Linked DNA regions of Homo sapiens. The protein of the gene in region 2 purifies or fractionates together with the protein of the main gene of each other region. This does not show direct contact. Each region holds a gene or a part of one and is shown on either strand. Other genes may lie near its edges.

Region 1 (3,849 bases), on a different chromosome or scaffold from region 2:
TATACTCCTGAACATGTAAAAAGTCCAGCCCTGTTTCTTTTTTTCCTGTTCTTTCTAAGAAAGGGAGTTTCGTGCTCCAACTTTGGCATCCCTAGAAAACTGCATGAAGCTTTCTCAGATGGCCGTTCAGGGACTTCAGCAATTTAAGTCTCCCCTTCTGCAGCTCCCTCATATTGAAGAGGACAATCTTAGACGGGTTTCTAATCATAAGAAGGTAATTCTTTGCTACTTTAAAGTCAGTTTTCAGCAGTTTGTCCTGTCACTTAAAGGTAACATGAATAAAAGTTTTCTGGAAATGGTTACTATGCATTTTTTAGATTTAGAATGTCTTAAATACTCTAAAACTTTCTCTCAGGTGGTTCTGTTAACATTTTCTTGACTAGGTAGCTGTGTTTTATAGTATTTTACTACTGTAAGTAGTTTTATTATTTTGGGGGTTGTTGCATTTAAAAAGTCAACAGTTAGTTCCTTATATTATGTTACCAAAAATAAATGTACTGTCTACTTTACAGTCATTTTATTCTTGGCTTAAGGTTGGGCAATTGTTTACTGGTTAAGCATGAACAACAAAAACATTTAATAAATCAAATAAAGACAGTTCTTATTTAGAATATATAATCTATAGTATAAACATGATAATGAATCTTAAGATATAACAAAAATTTGTGTAAATGAAAAACTTGAGGAAATATAAGAAACTGAAGTTACAATTCTAGTAGGAGATTTTAAACATTATTTTGTATATGATAGATAAAACTAGCAGAGAATAGACATTGGATTTGATAGTATATTAATGTAGAATTAATAAATGCATGTTGGAAATTAGTATCAGAGTTCTCTGTCCTTTTAAGTACTCATGTTCCCCTTATAAATTTGATTGTATGTTAAGTCATAATTAAAAACTTCAGAATCTAAAAGCAGAGATTTTACATGCCTCATGATCTAATCTGTGTCTTTGAAAGTGAAAAATAACTAGCACCAAACACCTGGAAAATTAAAGAACACGCTCCTAAGTAACCATTTTGCCAAGATGGATATTACTGTAGTAATAGCTATATTTTAAGAATAACAAAAATGAGAATATTGCATAGTAAAACTTTGAAGGTGCGTCTTTATTGAGGTTTATTTTTACTTTTATTAGGTAAAAGTAAACGTTTATTATTAAAGGTTTGTTAATAGTAAACCTATTAATTGCTAATTAAAGGTTTTTGTTATTAAAATTGAAAATAAACTGAGGACATCAATTGACAAAGTTCTTGGTTGAGTCAAGATTCTTATTTTTTCCCTCCAACTTTGTTTTTTCTAATTTAAAAAAATAAGCCTGTATTAACTTTATAATTTAAAAATTCTTAATTTAAATTTTCTTGGAGAAAAAGGTCATGAAATGCCATATCGTTATTTTGTACTTTGAAATGCACATTAATCAACACTTTTCTAAAAGTTGCTGGATTTTGTTGTGGTTAACATGTGAGTAATTTTCTTTTTATGAAAAGCTTTGTGAGTTAGGGAATTATGTATTTTCTTTTTTTTTTTTATTCAGTATAAAATTAAAACTATCCAGGATTTGGTGAGTTTAAAAGAATCAGATCGTCACACTCTACTGCACTTCCTTGAAGATGAAAAATATGAAGAGGTTATGGCTGTCCTTGGGAGTTTTCCATATGTGACCATGGATATAAAATCACAGGGTAAGTGGGAGGTTTCTCTGTTGAGCATTGCTTCCCTTTTGATAGATTGGTTCTCATTTATTTGACTCAGGATTCTCAAAACACTGTACTTAATAACATAACTTGTTATTAGACTTTGCAGAACTGTAGTTTACCTGTCAGATTTACTATGTTGGAAAATGATTTATACCTAATAGTTTGAGAACACTGATAGAGTCCTACTTTTATTATCCTCATAATGGGATGAAGTCTGAACACTCTGTTCTGTAGTTCAACTTTTAGCAATTTCTTAACTTTCCAAAGAATGATGAAGACTTCCAGGCATAATAAAAGAATGAGATATTTGAAGTATATTATTAGTATGAAAGAAATAGCTGCCTAGTTCTAAAATTAAATTTTTAAAACCCAACTTATTTATGTTAATTAAATGTTGAAAATTACTGTGTTTTATGCCACATTTCATGTGTTTTTCTTGCCCTACCTCTATATTTTCTTTGAGGGAAAAAAATAAAGGCTATTTTTCTACCTATATAATTGCTCTGTGTTTCTATTTCAATATCTGAATGGTCTTAGAATACTGAGAGAATTAGAGACTATCTGCTCCATTCTTTCATTGTGGTGGTGGTCTGAGCTTTAACATTTGCTAAGTTACTATTATGAGAACATTCTTTTAGTTACCAAGAATACAGGGATATATTAATAATGGTTTCTGTCTTTATTTTATTTATTTATAAATAATTTTTGAGACAGGGTCTCACTCTGTCGTCCAGGCTGGAGTGCAGTGGTGCGATTTTGGCTCACTGCGTCCTCTGCCTCCCGGGCTCAAGCAATCCTTCTACCTCAGCCTCCTGAGTAGCTGGGACTACAGGTGCACACTACCATACCTGGCTAATTTTATTTTTTGTAATTTTAGTAGAGACAGCGTTTCACCATGTTGCCCAGGCTGGTCACGAGCTTCTGGGCTCAACTGCTCCACCTGCCTTGGCCTCCCGCAGTGCTGTGATTATAGGTGTGAGCCACCGTGCCTGGTTTGTGTCTTTAAAGAGAGCTTATTGTCTAGTTGAAGCAATAGGCTTAAAAATAAGATAAGGGCTGGGCCCAGTGGTGTCATGCCTTTAATCCCAACACTTTGGGAGGCCAAGGCAGGGGGATCACTTGAACCCAGGAGTTCGAGACCAGCCTGGGCAACATAGTGAGACCCTGTCTTTATAAAATTAAAAAAAAAACACACACACACCAAGATAACATATGCTAAGTGTTAACGTGAATGACACAGACATTGTACCATTTATTTATACAGCAAATATTGAATGCTGTGCACTCCTCTAGGTGCTAGGGAAGCAGTGGTAAGACATACCCTCTGCTTATTGAGCTTGTATTCTAATAGGAATTCTAATTGGGAAAGGAAGGCAAACAGTGCAATCTGGTTTCAGTTTGGCTGGAGTGTAGCATATGTGTTGTGAAAACTTGGTTTGCTTTGGTGAGGAGTTGGGGTTGCCTTGTGGGGCCATGAGTTTTCAGACTTTAAAAATACTAATTTAAAAGCTGTATTTAGGACTGTGCTGATTTAATAAAACTGTCCAAATAAAAATTTTGGGACTTAGAGATACTTTGTGATATTAAGAACTGTTAAAAGTATACCCTTTTCTTTTCTTTTCTTTTCTTTTTTTTTTTGAGACAGTCTTGCTCTGTTGCCCAGGCTGAAGTGCAGTGGCACTATCTGGGCTTACTGCAACCTCCAACTCTAGGTTCAAGTGATTCTCCTGCCTCAGCCCTCCCAAGTAGCTGGGATTACAGGCGTGTGCCACCACCATGCCCAGCTAATTTTTGTATTTTTAGTAGAGACGGAGTTTCACCATGTTGGCCAGGCTGGTCTCGAACTCCCAGCCTCAGGTGATTCACCCACCTCAGCCTCCCAGAGTGCTGGGATTATAGGCGTGAGCCACCATGCCTGGCCAAAAGTACATGCTTCTTAGAAAAATGAATATTAGAAGAGATTTTCTTATAGAAAGTAGAAATTTAAGAGTGTTCGGCCTCACTGACAAATATTACCATGGATCCACTCCATAGCATCTTGGATAGACAGTTTATTTATATTTTTACAGTGCTGCCTAATTATGTAATAATAGTGCTATAGTTGGTGAAGGAGGAGTAGAAGAAATATAGAAGCAGGAAAGGGGCA
Region 2 (4,199 bases):
ATGAATGACTGGCAATGAAATCAAGCAAGATGGTCAAGCTCCTCTCCAGTCTAAGGGGGCTTTCGACTTTCTCCAACAAAATCTGACATAAGAGCTAAAAGCGGGCCATGCTAGGTGGGCTGTGGATCCCTCACAGTGTCCCCATCTCTAGGTGAAGTGCCACTAGCTCAAGTACAAACAAGCTCCTCTCCTCTCCACCATGTACTGTGTCCTGACCAATGCTCAAAGGATCCAAATATGTTAAACATCAGGCAGTGGATGACTTAATGCTGTGCCCTGGTGGAAACTAGACCTCTATTTTTGAAACTTGATGGGTAGAAGTGAGGGGGAAAGCTGTCATTTTAAAGCTGTGAGGAGATGTTTTTGGTTTTTTTTTCCTTTGGAGGAGGATTCCCACTATTTGTGGCTATTTTCCCTCTGCTTTCCACAGGCATTTTATTTAACAGCTGCCTCCTTCCCCTACAAAAGTAACCATTCCCCTGACTTGTACAGGAGGCTGAGGCAGGAGAATCGCTTGAACCCGGGAGGCAGAGGTTGCAGTTAGTGGAGATCGCGACACTGCCCTCCCCAGCCTTGGAGACAGAGTGATGCTCCGTCTCAAAAAAAAAAAAAAAAGAAAAAAAAAAAAATTCTTGGCTCTTGAGCTGTACAAAAACAGGTAGTAGGTCAAATTTGGCCCACAGCCCCTAGTTTGCTAACCCCTGTCTTAGACTATAAGCTGCTTGAGAAAGCAGCCTGTGTTTTAATCTTTGCACCTCTAGTGGCTAGCAAAGCCCAGCTAGGCGCTCTGTACAGCAGGTACTGGTAAGTATTTACAGAAGGATCAGGACGATTTTCCATGGTTCATGTATGTCTTTATGGCTATGATCCATATTTAAAGACAACCAAAGGGGAGCACTGAGACCACATGAAAGTTACCTCCTTCTATAGTGGGAACTTGGCATTTGAAAAATCTTCAGCACCCTTTTCACCTTTACACTGATGAAAACATTTGATTTATTTCTGCCAGCCATAGACTTTAGTTTACTATCAATAGCATGTTGAAGGTTTTTATAGTCCTAACTCTAAATTGGTAAAGCCAATATTTGTGTCATGGACCCTCCATTCACGCTCGATACCTGGTAGCTTTTGCCAAATACAAGGAAATACATCAAGGCATGGCTCTGGTTGTATATCAAACAATCAGTTATCAGAGGTTCAACTCACCATTCCACTGATGCATCGGCCACAAGCGGTTGTTTTAAACTCACCGTGCAGTTCTTTCACTGCACTTGTGGTGTAAAAGCCTTCTGCCAACAGAATGATCCCATACAAGAAGAAAAAGGACGCAATTCCATAGATGACATACTGCATCAGTTGTATCCTACAAAGAGAAGAAGAGATCCTGAACCATTAAATTCACTGCCTGGTAGTGACTACGTTTCTGGACGCTGGAGAGAGGACATGAGGGGGATGTTCCTGTGAGTGCGTCACTCGCCCCACTGATGGCTTTGATGGACTTGTGGGGCATCCTGGGCGGCATCCCTGCCCATGTCCCAGCAACCTGGGCCTTCCTTCCAAGGTGGGAATGATGTTTCCTTTGCTCAGGGCAGCATCCAGTTGTAATCTTTTAATCCTTACCTGAGTCCTGGGCGGCAAGGGTTAGAATCCTCATTTTGCACATAAGTAAAACACAGGCATTGAGGAGTTAAGCTCCTCATCGGAGGATACACAGTTAGTGGCAAAGCCAGCATCTGAACCCTGGCCCAATGGACAACATGTTCTTTCTGCCCTTTCAAAATGCCTCCCAACCAGGCCTAGTGGTTAATGTCACTCTGATAAAACCCCTAAGTAGGCACTCAGGGCTTCTTTAGGGGGTAATCTGGGGAGATGTCTTTTGCACTGTGACTCCCACCACACAAATAGTAGTAGGTCGAGTAGGTTTAAGATACAGAAAGTTAATTCACAATGCAGTTTGTCCCACAAAAGCTAACAAAGACAAATGACATGTCCTCAGCCTTCGGCTGCCCACTGGAATCACCTGGGGAGCTTGGAAAATACTGGTACCTGGATCCCGCCCCCAGAGATTATGTCCTAATTGGTCTGGGGTAAGGCATGGGGATTTTCTTAAAGCTTCTCAGAAGTTTGAGAGCCACAGACTGAGATCACTACCTAATTAAATCAACACACCTTTCCCAGGTTCAGTCTTGGTAAACATTTCTTCTTTGCACATAGTTGGAACTCAGTGAGTCCCCTGTCCTGCTTGAGCCCTCCTTATAATCTCCCCAACCTGTGTTCATTTCTTTGGAGGTCATTTGTGAACAGATAAGAAAGAATAAAATTCCCTAAGGACTGAAGAGTCTCCAACATGACTCCATGACCATTCCATAAAAATTCATTCATGTCTTTTTCAGTCTGGTGAAGAAGTTTCTTATAATCATAAGACACACTAACACTGGAACTTTGGGATTCAAGGGAAGAAAAAGAAACGGTAGAAGGAAATGGAGAAAGGGGAAGACATGTGAAGGAAATAAGTAGATTGCTGCTGAGCTTGCACAGCTACAAGAATCTATGTGTGGGAGTCACTGCGACTCCATTGAGAATGTTTCCAGAAAGAAAGGCAGAGATCTGCTGCTAAACCCCTGGACCTTCCTCTCTTCTGCAATGGAGGATGCCCTGGGATCTGCTCTTCTGCAATGGAGGATGCCCTGGGATCTGCTCTTCTGCTGGAAGAGTTAATGTTAAAATACTGCTCCTGTAGGCTTAGAGTTGGGGTCAGTCCTCAACAGGGCTCCTACCATTCCAGGGATGGTCACTTCCTGGGAGAAAGCTGGAGGCATCTGTTACTTGGGAACAACACAATTCTGTTGAGACAATCGGCAGCATCACCTATCACCATGTCACAGCTCCCCATGTCCACAGCTACCATGTGTGGAGTGTCCTATGTGTGCACCTTACCATTCCCAAGTAACATTCCACCCTGGGGCCTAAACAGCTACCATATTCTAGGCCCTTTCTTTTTCCTTCTCTCATGAACCTTTTTCTAACTACATAAAGTGAGCTTTAAGTAAAAGCATTCATCTTCTGCTAGGAAAGCACACTGTAGTCTTTCTGAAAAACATCATGAGGTGGTTGCATCTCAGATACTTTTTTTTTAAACAAAGTATCACTCTGTCACCCAGGCTGGAGTGCAGTGTTGCCATCTCGGCTCACCAGCTCACCGCAACATCCACCTCCTGGGTTCAACTGGTTCTCCTGCCTCAGCCTCCCAAGTAGCTAGGATTACAGGCACGCACCACCACGCCCAGCTAAATTTTTTTTTGTATTTTTAGTAGAGGTGGCGTTTCACCATGTTGGCCAGGCTGGTCTTGAACTCCTGACTTCAGGTGATCTGCCTGCCTCAGCCTCCCAAATTGCTGGGATGACAGGCATGAGCCACCACGCCAGGCCTTAGATGCATTTTTAAAGGGAACCGGATACTTACACCTCGCTCAGCAAGGCATGGTCACTGGCGTTGGTGGAGAAGTGTTGCTCAAGAATCGCCACGGTGCCTGCGAGAGCCACATGCCCACAGCCGCAGAATAAGGCCACCCCGGAGAAGCAGAGGATGGTGGCCACCAGGGAGGCGTAGGGGACTCCTCCCAGACACTTGATGCAGCATTCAAAGCAGCCTGAACCCAAAGGAGAGAAAATATAGCCGTTACGGGCAAGAACACCTCTGGTCTTCAAGAATACCCCATATTCACAGAGAAGGCTTACAATTTTCCATCTCCCCTCTCAGGCTCTATGGTTAATATTAATACTTCGACATCCCAAGGGCCAGTGTGGTAGTTACCGTGATCTCACATTCTGCGGTGAGGACCCTGAGGCTCCAAAAGGGAATGTAACTTAATTTGCTCAGAATCTGGAAGGGTAGTGAATGGCAGAGCAGTCAATTGACAAAGAGTTATAAGGTAGTTACAGTTCTAGAGCTTCCTGATCGACTGAGTGGTGGGGGGAGCCCCGCTCAAGTGCCAACAAGAAGCACTCATTCCACTAACACAGTCAAAAGAGAGGACAGCAGTGAAGCTGCAGCTCTGTGAAGAAAAGCAACAGTCAGGTCGTCTCCAGCCTCACAGTTCTGGGGTTTCAATACGTCTGCTGCTGTGGCAACCAACGGCTTTCCCCAAGCCCTGGACCTCCGGGGCAACTGGGAGAATCTGATACAGCAATTATGCCGT
Region 3 (3,849 bases), on a different chromosome or scaffold from region 2:
ATTGATTCTACCCTCACCATTGGAATGGCTCTCCTCTTTGTGCCAGATTGCATCATAAGTCTTCAACTTAAATCTCCTTGCACTTTAGCCTTTCTTGTTTATTCTGGCACAAACTGCTATCTCTATTCTGACCTGTTAAGCACACATTTTGCTATAAAATCAAGTACTGCTTTGTGTTTAATTTGGGTCCACATATATTTCTCAAGCGCTTTGTGCCTCACACTGTTAGTTGTTAGGGGAAATGAGGATAACATAAAAGTGACATTTCCTAAACTAAGACTTCAATTTCTCTTATACTCTTTTTACTCCTAGTTAGTAGTGTAGTGCTAGGCCCAGACATTAAGCAAGAACTTGTTGACCCAACCTGTTGCATGGGATCTGACCTCCTGTGCTTCCTTCCATAGAAACTTACTAAGCATTCACTCTGCTGAGCGCTTGGGTGGATGCTAGGGATGTGGTGGAGACAGGAGCTGCTTGGCCTGTCAGAGGCTTCCCACCCTCTGGTGGTACCAACAGGCTACACAGGCAAGTGCCGTGCCGTGCTGTGCCGTGTGCCAGGTGCTATGCTAAGGAAGTGCAGGGTGATGTGAAAGCGCCAAAGAGAAACCTAACACAGACTTGTGCGGGCAGGGAACAGTTGCCCAAGGAAATGATGTGACACTTGAGCAGGACCCGAACAATAGAGGTTAGCCAGGAGAGAGGGGAGAGTCTCCAGCAGAGGGAACAGCACTGTGACAGGAGTGACAACAGATGCATCAATAGGAACATTCAGCAGGAAGACAACAGAGAGGTGATATAGGCCAGGTTAAGCCAGTGGAAAAAAATAGCAGGATTTTAAGTATTGCACGTAAAAGCTTTCTGATTTCTCCAGTCCATTCTGGCCACATGGGGAGTGGATCAGTGAAGAGCAGGGAGAGCAAGACTGGAAGGGCAGTAAGATGAGCCGGCCTACTGTAGCAGCCCAGATGGAGGTGCTCATGAGCTGAACTTCGTAGGTGAACATGCTTGAGAAACATTCTGCAGTAGTATTGACCAGGACTTGGTGATTAACTGGATGTGTTAAATGAGGGAGGAAGAGAAGACTACCTAGGGTTTTGGGAGCAGGGCAGCTGTGAGAATGGTGTTGGCTTTCTCCCAGAGGGGAAATCCAAGAGCAAATGCCATTAATGAGCCAAGTTTTGAACCTGCAGAATTTGAGTTCATCTGTGGGACATGTGAGGGCATGCGTCCAGGAGGTAGTTTTGTATATAGGAGTCTGAAGTTGAGAGGAGTCTGGTCTGGAAATAAAAAATGAGGATTGTCCTTGTGCAGGTAGTTATCAAAGCTCCCGTGGATGTGGTTAAGATCGCCTGGGGAATATGTACAGAGTGAAAAGAGGCTCTCAGTACAAAATGCAGAGAACAGGAACAGCTGAGAAATGGGGAGAAGAAATGGAGAGGCGGGGAAAGCCATCCAAGTGCAGTGTCTTAGAAACCAAGGAAGAGAGTGTTTGGAGAAGAATGGAGAGGGCACAGATTCCGATGCTGCCCAGATGCTGGGGAAGGTAAGGCAGTCACTGGTGACCTGGGCAAGAGCAGTCTTGAGGGAGAAGTAGAAGCAAAAGTCAGACTATGAGCAAAAATCAAAAGTCAAGCACTCAGAAGTGAACAAGTAGAGTTGGTAAGTGCAAACCACACTTTCAGTAAGTTTATCTGTGAAGTACGGGGAGGGGGAGAAGAGACAGTGGCTAGGGGTGGGTGTTGCAGGACCTGAGAAAGGGCATGTGGTGCCCTAGCTTCCTAGCTGATAGGAAGGAGCCAGTAGAGAGGGAAAGGGTAAAAGATGCAGGTCTCTGAGAAAGTACAGGATGCTCTCCAGCTTCAAGCAGAATATGATATGAGCTACTGAATTCTGTTCTGCAGGGATTTCACCAGTTCTAAAAACATTTGGAATGATTTAATTTCTCTCCTATACATCCAGGATGATATCAGCTCTGTACCATCCTTCAGATAATTGGGAAAGCAGTCACTTGAATCATTCCCTGAAGGGCTTAATTCTCCTAGGAATATGGCTAAGAAGGGCTGGCTAGAGTAATTTATATTTCATGTGTATCATTTGGCAGAAACTAACCACAACTTTCATTTAGTTCAGCACTGTTGTTGGGCATGCAGTAGTCTCAAATATGCCAGAAATCCAGGCAGTAACATAAGCACGGCGATAGTATGCTTCACTTAGGTGATTCACTTTTTTATTTTTTCTGCTAATGTAATTTGAACTATTAAAATTGTTTTTTATATGTTTTTACTCCTTTTGTTTTTCTAATACCTGTTAATATTCTACCATCTTGCTAACATTCTCTAGTCTTCTTTTTTAATTATCTGCAATATATCTTTTTTAATAGGCTAGTCTTCCATCTACTTGTCTATTTTAACTAAGAATAAAGCAGCAGGCTGGGTGTGGTAGCTCACGCTGGTAAATCCCAGCACTTTGGGAGGCCAAGATGGGAGGACCACTTGATGCTAGGAGTTAGAGGCCAGCCTGGGCAACATAGTGAGACCCTATCTCTTAAAAAAAAAAAAGTGAAGCAGTATTATTATGAAGCTTTGAAAACTAAAAAACTTAAAATTATTTTATCTTGTACTGTAGAAGTTGAATAAGCAAATGTCTAGACATACATTTAATTAAGTTTCTCATAAGTCCCTTAAATTTTTTGAAGATTTCTATTCATCCTCATTCTTATGAACACACTCAAAAACTTAAAAGATTACATGATTTGTGTTTTTTTTCTCAGGAGTTGTGGAGTGTATGGCAGCTGGCACAATTATCCTTGCACACAATTCGGGGGGCCCAAAGCTTGACATTGTGGTTCCTCACGAAGGAGATATAACTGGCTTTCTGGCTGAGAGTGAAGAAGACTATGCTGAAACTATCGCTCACATTCTTTCCATGTCTGCAGAAAAGAGACTCCAAATCAGAAAAAGTGCTCGTGCATCTGTAAGCAGATTCTCTGATCAGGAATTTGAAGTGACATTCCTATCATCTGTGGAAAAGTTATTTAAGTAATGCCATATCTGTAAAATTAAAGATATTTTATATAAACTGGTTAAACACCTTCATATGTAAATATTTTTCTAAATTCAATCTCATTTGTCAAATCATTTTACTTTAGAAAACAGACAAAATTTCCTTTTAGAATAAAAGGAAGTGTTGAAAAGAAAATGGATGACTAGCCTTCGGCTTCCATTCTTGGTATACATGAGAGAGGCTGGCTGCTGAGATGAATGTGAACCAGGTTGCAGAGAATCTGGCTTTGAGCCACCAGGAAGAACTAGTGGATTTGCCAAAAAACTACCCCTTGAGTGAAAATGAAGATGAGGGGGACAGTGATGGAGAGAGAAAGCATCAAAAGCTTCTGGAAGCAATCATTTCCCTTGATGGAAAGAATAGGCGGAAATTGGCTGAGAGGTCTGAGGCTAGTCTGAAAGTGTCAGAGTTCAGTGTCAGTTCTGAAGGATCAGGAGAAAAGCTGGGCCTTGCAGATCTGCTTGAGCCCGTTAAAACTTCATCTTCTTTGGCCACTGTAAAAAAGCAACTGAATAGAGTCAAATCAAAGAAGGTGGTGGAGTTACCTCTTAACAAAGAAAAAATTGAACAGATCCACAGAGAAGTAGCATTCAGTAAAACCTCACAGGTCCTCTCCAAATGGGACCCTATCATCCTGAAGAACCAGCAGGCAGAGCAGCTGGTTTTTCCCCTGGGGAAGGAGCAGCCAGCCATTGCTCCCATTGAACATGCGCTCAGTGGCTGGAAGGCAAGAACTCCCCTGGAGCAGGAAATTTTTAACCTCCTCCATAAGAACAAGCAGCCAGT
Region 4 (2,676 bases), on a different chromosome or scaffold from region 2:
ACTCATTTTGAGGAGATAAGGAAGGCCAGTTGAGTATATGGCCCAGGTGCAGCTTGGAGGGCCAGCCTTCTCAAATGTCCTGGTGTACTGGTGGGGAGGCTGCCCCCTAATAGAGCGAGCGCTGAGAAGCAGCCAGACCACATTCTATAATCTTTGAACATGCTGGCAGATGGAGGCTTTTAGGAGAATAGTTTTTTAAACATTCTGACAAGGTCCAGCCAGGAATTTCTAAGGACTTAGAAATCCCAGCGTCATGGAGTTGCTTGGGGTCAACACAAGTCACCTCTTAGCTTCATGCCTTAGAATTCTCAACTGGCTGTTTTCTTACCACCTGAGAAACTAAATTTCTCAATTATAAAAATCTCATGTATTATTACTGTTAGAAGTATTTGCACCTCATATATATCTCATTTACAGTTTGACCTTGGGATATCGAGTTGTCTCATATTTAGGTATGAATACAGGTTTCTATTTTAAACATTGATTCTCACATGCTTCTTAATTATTCATGGATGACAAGCCATTATAGTAGTCCCTTCTTATCCACGGCTTTGTTTTCTGTGGTTTCAGTTACCTGAGGTCTGAAAATATTAAATGGAAAATTCCTATAACAATGCATAAGTTATAGATTACATACCATTCAGTGTAGCATGATGAAATCTCTTGCCAATCTGTTCCATCCACCTGGGATGTGAATCATCCCTCTCTCTGGTGTATTCACACTGTATGTGCTAGCCGTCTCTGTTACGAGATCAGCTGTCGTGGAATCAGTGCTAGTGTTCAGGTAACTCTTATTTAATAATTGCCTCAAAGTGCATTGTGCTGTGCCTAATTTATAAAATAAACGGTATCATAGGTATGTATGTATACGAAAAACATAGTATATGCAGGGTTGGGTACTATCCACAGTTTCAGGCATCTACTGGGGGGTCTTGGAATATATCCCCAGAGGGTAAGGGGTGACTACTGTATACAGCCATGCCAACATGCTGGTTCTCAGAGAGTTATAAGAGAGATTAAAAATACATGCAGCTGTTTGGGCACTTTCTTCCCAAATAAAATACCCAGTAAAATGTAACATACTACCTATAGCTTGATAATCTATCTGAGGATGTTTATGATGTCTGTCTATATACTTTAATTTGGCCTTAGCTTCTTTGTAGGTATCAAGTTATCACTTGCAAATTTATTTTCAAAAAGCATAGTTTCTTGTACATTTTAGAAGATTAGTTTTTCTTATTTTGGGACACCTACACCAATGTTTTAAATGTGGATAAATTTTAATGTGGAATTTCTTTTAAAAATAATCCTCTTCATAGAGCAATACAACAAAAATGTGTTGTATCTTGGAGATTTACATTATAAATGTAGTAACATTTATGAGCTTAAATTTAATGAAACCTTTTTTTTTTTTTTGAGACAGTCTTGCACTGTCGCCCAGGCTAGAGTGCAGGGCATGATCTCAGCTCACTGCAACCTCCGTCTCCCGGGTTCAAGCAATTCTCGTGCCTCAGCCTCCTCAGTAACTGGCATTATAGGTGTGCACCACCACACCTGGCTAATTTTTGTATTTTTCATAAAGACGGGGGTTTCACCATGTTGGCCAGGCTGGTCTCAAACTCCTGACCTCAGGTGATCAGCCTCCCTCGGCCTCCCAAAGTGCTGGGATTACAGGCATGAGCCATGGTGCCTGGCCAAACGTTTTTATTACAAATATTACATTAAACTAAAGCTCACAACTGTTATTATGCATCAGGAATTAACAGTCATTTCTCATTTGTGTTATTCTCCTATTTGATAACATATAGTGACTATCTCTTTATGGGTTAAATATCAGTTTCTTGGCCAGAATTCAAGATCTGCCCCTAACTAATCCTACTTCTCCCAGTACCCTTACAGCACTCCTACCCTACTAGTAACTCTGATATCTCATAGTCCTCAGATTTATCAAGCAAACGAAACTGAATGAGCACTACTATAAGGTACCACAAACTACAAAAGGAGACAGTTTTGCCCTTGTTGCTTTCAGTTAAATTATTGTGCTATTTTTTGCTTAATTTCTAGGTTTTTTTTGCGTGTTTATCATGTCTCCGTAGGTAAAGTGGGCAGAAATCTTTTTCTACTTTACATTTCCTGTAAGTGCTGTTTGTTTGAATAAAGTTAATGTGTGAGGTTACGGTTACTTTTTATTTTTAATCAACATGATAGTTTTGGGAATTTATTACTAAAATTTATCAAAGCAGGCAAGGAATGAAGTTGTATCCTTCACTGTCAAACATTACTTGAGTCCCTTTACTACACAAAAAAGCCAAAGAATACAAGAATACAGAGACATACTTCCTGATTCCACAGAACTCATAATCTGGAAGCACAGCCCATGAAAGCATTTCAGTACAAACTGGTAAATAATAGGGACAGGAAAACCTAACTAACTCAGCTGTCAGCTGTGGTTGCAGGCAGGCCGGCAGTGGATGGTTCCTTCAGTGATTTCTGAACTGAGTTTGAAGCATGGGCAGGAATTAGTAGGTCAGACACAGAACAAAAGAAGAGCAGTCTTCATCAGACATTTAGCTTGCCTGAAAATCACAAGCACAATCTAAAAAGGTAGTGAAAGGTCCTTGAGAAACACCATTTATAATGTTGTTTTGGTTTTTGAAATTTTTAGACTCTTAGAAT

The links.
Region 1: the proteins of GPM6B (region 2) and SEC63 purify together in Homo sapiens (affinity purification with mass spectrometry; one large-scale study listed by BioGRID and IntAct). This does not show direct contact.
Region 3: the proteins of GPM6B (region 2) and ALG11 purify together in Homo sapiens (affinity purification with mass spectrometry; one large-scale study listed by BioGRID and IntAct). This does not show direct contact.
Region 4: the proteins of GPM6B (region 2) and FAM162A purify together in Homo sapiens (affinity purification with mass spectrometry; one large-scale study listed by BioGRID and IntAct). This does not show direct contact.

The regions. Positions count from the first base shown.
Region 1 is NC_000006.12:107,899,209-107,903,057, reverse strand, and holds part of SEC63 (translocation protein SEC63 homolog), read left to right. Parts: intron 1-59; coding exon 60-214; intron 215-1,540; coding exon 1,541-1,688; intron 1,689-3,849. UniProt on the Homo sapiens protein: Mediates cotranslational and post-translational transport of certain precursor polypeptides across endoplasmic reticulum (ER). Proposed to play an auxiliary role in recognition of precursors with short and apolar signal peptides.
Region 2 is NC_000023.11:13,782,159-13,786,357, forward strand, and holds part of GPM6B (neuronal membrane glycoprotein M6-b), read right to left. Parts: exon of another isoform or gene 3,815-4,199; intron 3,651-3,814; coding exon 3,464-3,650; intron 1,364-3,463; coding exon 1,207-1,363; intron 1-1,206. UniProt on the Homo sapiens protein: May be involved in neural development. Involved in regulation of osteoblast function and bone formation. Involved in matrix vesicle release by osteoblasts; this function seems to involve maintenance of the actin cytoskeleton.
Region 3 is NC_000013.11:52,025,549-52,029,397, forward strand, and holds part of ALG11 (GDP-Man:Man(3)GlcNAc(2)-PP-Dol alpha-1,2-mannosyltransferase), read left to right. Parts: intron 1-2,770; coding exon 2,771-3,042; 3' UTR 3,043-3,256; coding exon of another isoform or gene 3,257-3,849. Other genes in the region: UTP14C (U3 small nucleolar RNA-associated protein 14 homolog C), read left to right, coding at 3,257-3,849. UniProt on the Homo sapiens protein: GDP-Man:Man(3)GlcNAc(2)-PP-Dol alpha-1,2-mannosyltransferase that operates in the biosynthetic pathway of dolichol-linked oligosaccharides, the glycan precursors employed in protein asparagine (N)-glycosylation.
Region 4 is NC_000003.12:122,410,159-122,412,834, forward strand, and holds the end of FAM162A (protein FAM162A), read left to right. Parts: 3' UTR 1-2,176; downstream 2,177-2,676. UniProt on the Homo sapiens protein: Proposed to be involved in regulation of apoptosis; the exact mechanism may differ between cell types/tissues.